Linked DNA regions of Homo sapiens: region 2 is linked to region 1. The links come from fine-mapping of genetic effects on gene expression. A gene starts in region 1. The other region holds a variant in brackets. All regions are shown on one strand. Distances are from middle to middle. Region 1 holds the start of SLK (STE20 like kinase). Region 2 overlaps COL17A1 (collagen type XVII alpha 1 chain).

Evidence for each region. PIP is the estimated chance that this variant, and not a neighbour inherited with it, causes the effect.
Region 2: its variant is the best candidate, but not a certain one, in a credible set for the expression of SLK in regulatory T cells (Bossini-Castillo 2019, PIP 0.74).

Annotation. Positions count from the first base shown.
Region 1 is chr10:103,965,375-103,968,277 of GRCh38, forward strand. SLK (STE20 like kinase) reads left to right here and starts at 1,766. Exons shown (of 19, transcript NM_014720.4): 1 at 1,766-2,521. The coding sequence starts at 2,372. It overlaps LOC102724351 (a long non-coding RNA gene), which reads right to left and starts at 1,671. Exons shown (of 5, transcript XR_007062282.1): 1 at 407-1,671. RefSeq lists silencers at 1,628-2,087, 2,128-2,177, 2,188-2,287.
Region 2 is chr10:104,039,246-104,042,148 of GRCh38, forward strand. COL17A1 (collagen type XVII alpha 1 chain) reads right to left here. Exons shown (of 56, transcript NM_000494.4): 37 at 2,240-2,293; 38 at 2,058-2,099; 39 at 1,820-1,873; 40 at 1,106-1,165; 41 at 728-754; 42 at 363-395; 43 at 200-274. Among named protein-coding and RNA genes, the nearest start is that of MIR936, 7.5 kb to the right of the region's middle. The variant G/GTGGA (reference allele first, on the strand shown) is at 1,325.

The DNA.
Region 1 (2,903 bases):
TCATTTTCTCCATAAATGATAATAATTACAAATAATTATAGTATTGTTTTCACAGGTCTATACATTTGTCAAAACATATAAAAGTGCACACTTGCAGCAAACCACCATGGCACGTGTATACCTATGTAACAAACCTGCACGTTCTGCATGTGTATCCCAGAACTTAAAGTATAATTTTAAAAAAAAGCAAACAAGTACTAGCAAAAAAACCAAATGCACACTTTAAATATGTACAGTTTATTGTATATCAATATATTGCAATAACACTTAAAAAAATAGAAGGATCTCAAGGAATTGAATCATCTTAAGCGTCTTACTGGAAGGGGGGTTTTGCTATGCCATTTTGGGGCTGAAGGGCAAAATGACTGGGGGGGCAGACATTATATAAATAGCAATATATACATACATTGTCTCTGCTCCAGATACCGCCATTCATTCATTCATTCACCAGATCTGCCTTCCTATTATATGCCAGGAATGTTGCCGGGTACTTGGATATCTTGATGAACAACAAACCACTGGCCTGAAAGAGCTCCCGTCTGGTGGAGGAGGGGAAGGTAGGTCACCACCTGACGGATTCCAGCCAACGTCCACACTGCCCCACCAGGGAGTGCTGCCCAAGGGGGCTGGAGGCAGATCAGGAAGTGGGGGCCTTAGCTGAGGTGGAGTCACCAAGAGTGACACCAGGTTTACAGTTGTGGAGGTGGCCAGAAGTTAGTTTTACCCTCAAGGGAGTGTCGCAGTCATCAGTTGAGAAGTGGGGGCCCGGCGCGGTGGCTCACGCCAGTACTTTGGGAGGCCGAGGCGGGCGGATCACGAGGTCAGGAGATCGAGACCATCCTGGCTAACACGGTGAAACCCCGTCTCTACTAAAAATACAAAAAAATTAGCGGGGCGTGGTGGCGGGCGCCTGTAGTCCCAGCTACTCGGGAGGCTGAGGCAGGAGAATAGCGTGAAGCCGGGAGGCGGAGCTTGCGGTGAGCCTAGTTCGCGCCACTGCACTCCAGCCTGGGCGACAGATCGAGACTCCGTCTCAAAAAAAAAAAAAAAAAAAAAAAAAGAAAGAAAGAAAAAAAAGAGAAGTGGTCTTAAACAGTTTTTATGTATCTGTGTCTATCTTGCCTGCACACTTAAAACAACAAGAGTAAGAACTAAGATTGAGCGTTTACGGGTGCAGGGGCCGCGCAAAGGGCTTCCATCTATTGTCTCATTCACAACCTTCTGGTAGGGACTATTAGGATCTTCATTTTACGGCGAGGAAACCGAGGCTCGGAGAGGTCACCTGCCCAAGGTCACAGATCTCTCTCTCCAAAGCTCAAGCTCACAACCACCACACAAACTCCCCTCTCACTGTACCTGGGGCCCGTCTGAGAGCGAAAAAGTCCGCTTTCAGGTCCCAACCCTAACAGGTCCGGCTTTCACTCCACAGTTTTTCCCAGATCCAGAATGGAGACAACATCCGCTAGCACAATCAACAGGGTCGTCCCACGGGGGCCGCTCCATCAAGGCCGTGGACTGACAGGATTTGGGGCTTGGAGGGCAAATGAGAAACAATCGTCAGGGACCGAAGAACAAATGCGTCCATCACACCAGCCCCCCGCACCCCGAGCCCCGTGCTCCGCTCACGCGAACCCTCGGGGGCAGCCAGTCTGAGGGACGTAGCGCGCGTGCGCGGGGCCAGAGGGGACGCCCCCACGCGAGCGCGCGGTGAGCAGGGCGCGTGACCGGGCGGGCGCGCAGCCGGGAAAGCGCGCGGGCGCGCTACGGAGTCGGCGTCGGCGCGCGCTCCAGGCCGAGGCTGTGTGGGCTGGGGAGGGAGACAGGCGGCGGCGGCGGCGCCCCAGACCCGAGGGGACGCGCGGGCCTTGCGCCGCGGGAGCGGACGGCGGCGGAGGAGACCCTAGGCTCGCGGCCCGAGGCGGGAGGGCTCGGCTTCTCGACTGCCCGCCTCCGAGGCCGCCGGCCGCTTCTCTCTCCCAGAGTGGCCGCCGCCCCTGGAGACTCGCCGTGACACGGGCCTAAGCCGCCGCCGCGGGAGTCCTGACCGCTCGGACCCGTCGGATCAGGCCGGGTGGGAGCGAGCTTGCGGGCAGGTGCCGCTCCCGGAGGGTGGGCCGGAGGCGAGGCGCCCACCGCGCGGCTCGCGGGCCGGGCTCGGCGGAGGGGCCGCTCGCGCAGCACCCCCACCGCGGGCCGGAGCCCGGGTCGCCGCCCCGCCTTCTCCCGGGACCGCCCGGCCGGAGCTGCGGGGGCCGAGGGACGCCGCGCCCGCCGCCGCCAGCCGGGCTCGCGCGGGAGAGCAGGGAAGAGAAACTTTGCCTTTTATTGTTTTTAGTCCTTAAGTGCAAGGAACTCTGTGTTGGGAGGAAAAATGTCCTTCTTCAATTTCCGTAAGATCTTCAAGTTGGGGAGCGAGAAGAAGAAGAAGCAGTACGAACACGTGAAGAGGGACCTGAACCCCGAAGACTTTTGGGAGATTATAGGAGAACTGGGCGACGGAGCCTTTGGGAAAGTGTACAAGGTAAGAGGGGGAAAACGGGAAGTTGTACTGCGAAGGTAAAACAGCCACTGGCCTGGAGTGGCGGGAGGACTTCTGCTCCCCTGGTCCTTATCCTGTCCTTCTTTTGACTGTTACGGTTCGATGCAACTTTACTTGGCTGATCATCCAAGGAGTAGCTAAGAAGTCGGGTTTACGGTGGAACAAAATGGGGCCTGGATGGAGTTTAAAGAGCGATTGGAAAAGGAGACAGGGTTATAAAGTCTACTCTTTCAAACTTCAAAGGAAATGAGAGTGTTCTTTAATTTATAGGAGGGGTCTGGTTGTGCCCTTCAAGTATTTTAGAATGAGAAACTCATTGCACTTTGCAGTGGATTTGTCTACTGACTGCATTCGCGTGCATGCT
Region 2 (2,903 bases), 74 kb after region 1:
AATACCACAGCTCCCTTGTACAGAGGCTATATCACCATGTCCTTGTCCCTTCCACCCTCTGGCCTTTCCTTCCTCCAGCCTCTTCTCTCTCCCAAGACTTTACACTGATGAGTACTTGCTGCCATCTCTTCAGGCTCTGGGCTCTGGGCACCAGGCTCACCCCTACTCCTCACCACCTTCTCACTGCTCCCTCACTGACCTTTGTCACCTTTGGGTCCCTGGGGGCCAGGTGGGCCTGGTGGTCCCTGAAGGTTGAGTCCGAAAGAACTGGACCCTGGAAGCCAACAACACACACAGTGCAGTCAGCCAGGGTTTGGAGAGGCTCTGGCCAGAGCCAGAATGGGGCGGGGTTCAGCCCTTACCTGAGGTTGAGAAACCTGGGAGGCCTTGCTCGCCTGAGGAACACACCAAGGGAGGGACAGTCAGCCTCACTTTTCTCACCCACTAACAGCCCTGTAGAGCCTCCCCAAGATCCATGATTGCTGGGGCTGCGTTGCCCTTTGGGCAGTACCTAGAGATGCCACACACACACACACACACACACACACACGCACACGCACACTTGCACTACACCCATGCACACACTCAACCATTCCTAGAGAAACACTGCTCTACTCTTGCTTATTTGCACCAGGTGCCTTTCTATCAAGCTCAAAGCTCTTGGGAGGTGAGCTTTTGCCATCCCCACCCCTACCCCAGGTTTTGTTTGATGCCGGCTCTACTGTACCTTGGTGTCCTCTGGGGCCTGGGGGACCTGAGGGAAAAAGGCAGAGAGCTATGAGACAGGTACCAACCAGGTGTTGTGGTTTCAATGGGCCCATGGAGGAGGGGATAGGGGCTCCAATGCTAGAGCAGATATAGAACTTGGGGTTCCTTGTGCCTCTCCTCTCACTAGGCCAATGTTGGGTGGCTATCCTTTGTAGAGTTTCTGACTATTGTGCCTCCCCCTCTACCTTTGCTCCAGGCTGCTGAGTTCCTAATGGGATAAGGCAGAAGGATGCAAAAATGCCCCAGCTCATTCAGCTTCATCCAAACCCTCCTGGCAACCAGCAGGTAAACAGAGGACACATACTGGCTTCTGGGTTCCCTGATACACTGTTCTCACCTTGGTCTCCCTTGGGACCTGGGGGGCCAGGTGGGCCTGGGGGGCCGGAGAGGAAGGTTTCTGCAGAGGAAGGAAATAGTTTGAGTATGGACACTGATGTTTGTGAAGAAGCAGCACTTTGCACAGCACCTGACAACATAGATGCTCAATCAATACTTGTCAAATAGTTGGATGGGTGGATGGATGGATGAATGGGTGGGTGGATGAATGGGCGGGTGG[G/GTGGA]TGGATGGATGGATGGATGGATGGATGGATAGGTGGATGGATGGATGGATGGATAGGTGGATGGGTAGATGGATGGATAAATGGATGGGTGGATGGATTTTCCACTAGGAACAGGTTCTGGCCTAATGTTTGCTTTAAAGTTATTTCCACAAGTTTCTATGTTGTACGGTCGGCACTTACTTCACGCGCATGTATCCTGCCTACTTTATCAGACCTGGGCTCCCCAAGGATAGGAACCAGGTCTCCCTGGTTAGGCCAGAAGCTCCCCAAGGGCAGAGCTGGCTCCCTCCCTCAGGCCAGACTACCAGGGTGGTTGGGTTGACATGGTTATTCCCTCCATGTGCAGCAAGCAGGAAGATTATATAAACATATCCCCATGGAAGTCAGGAGCAGGAAGCCTGGTGAGTAGGTTGTGACCACAAGGCTACGGCCACAGTCTGTGGCAGGACAAGGGCTGAGGTGGAGAACAGGTGCGACTTGACTCCCTGACATTACCTGAGTTGGACAGGAACGATCCTGGTGGGCCTGGTGGGCCTGGCAAACCCTCCCCTAGGAAAGAGAACCCCCAAGACTTATTAGTGCCAAGAGGGGAGCCAGGAACCCTCTGCTCAGGAGGAGGCAGCAGGGAAGCTCTTTCCTATAAGCCAGCCCAGAGGGCCCTGGGCTCAGGGTCCCATTGCTACCCACCTCTCACCTCCCCCTCCCACCTCCCAGTGGTAAGCTCGGCTCTCACCTGGTGGGCCTCGGGGTCCTGGTGGGCCTGGAATGGAAGGCCCTGCAGAAGAGAGCAAGGAAGAGGCCATGCTGAGCTCAGGGAGCTGATGCCACCCCTGAGGATCTTGGCTTCCTCACTAAGTGCATTGAATCTCCTGTCCCCCAAACTCCCCACCTTCCAAAGGTCTCCAAGATACTCACCTGGTGGCCCGCGTGGGCCGGGTGGGCCTGGGGGACCTTGTAAATTAAGAACTTCTATAGAGAGAAGAAAATAGAAATGAGCAAAAGCTGTCACGAGGCTGCTCTCTGCCACACTTCTCACCTCTCACTGGATCTGCAGTTCCAGGCACTCCAGGCTACCCTCACAGCCCAGACACCAGGCCCTGTGTCATGGCACAAGAGCCTGCAGCACCTCATCTGCTAAGGGTGCCCCTCACTCAGAGGCAGGGCAGGACCATAGTCAAGCTCCCTGACAGCTGATAAGAGCATGTGGAATGATGGGGATACATTGGATTTCGGTGTCAGAAAGTCTGAGTTCAAACCCCTGCTCCCACACGTCTAGCTGGTGACTTTGGGCAAGTTCTCAACCTCTTTCAGCCTCAGTTTCCTCCTCTGTAAACCAAGGTCAAAAAGATCTACATCACGGGGGTGTTGGGAAGACTCGGTGAAACACTGAAGACCAAGCTCCTAACACAGTGATAGCTCAGAGTGAGCGCTGGACCGGGTGGGCTGAAGCCTCTGCTGTTCTGCACTCCAGATGTCCAGGTGGGAGGCCCGGCAGTCTCCACCTGGGCTCCTTAAAGGACCCGGGAGTGAGTCCTCTCAGCCTGGGCCTGCAGCCGAGAACCCACAGACGGTTGTCATT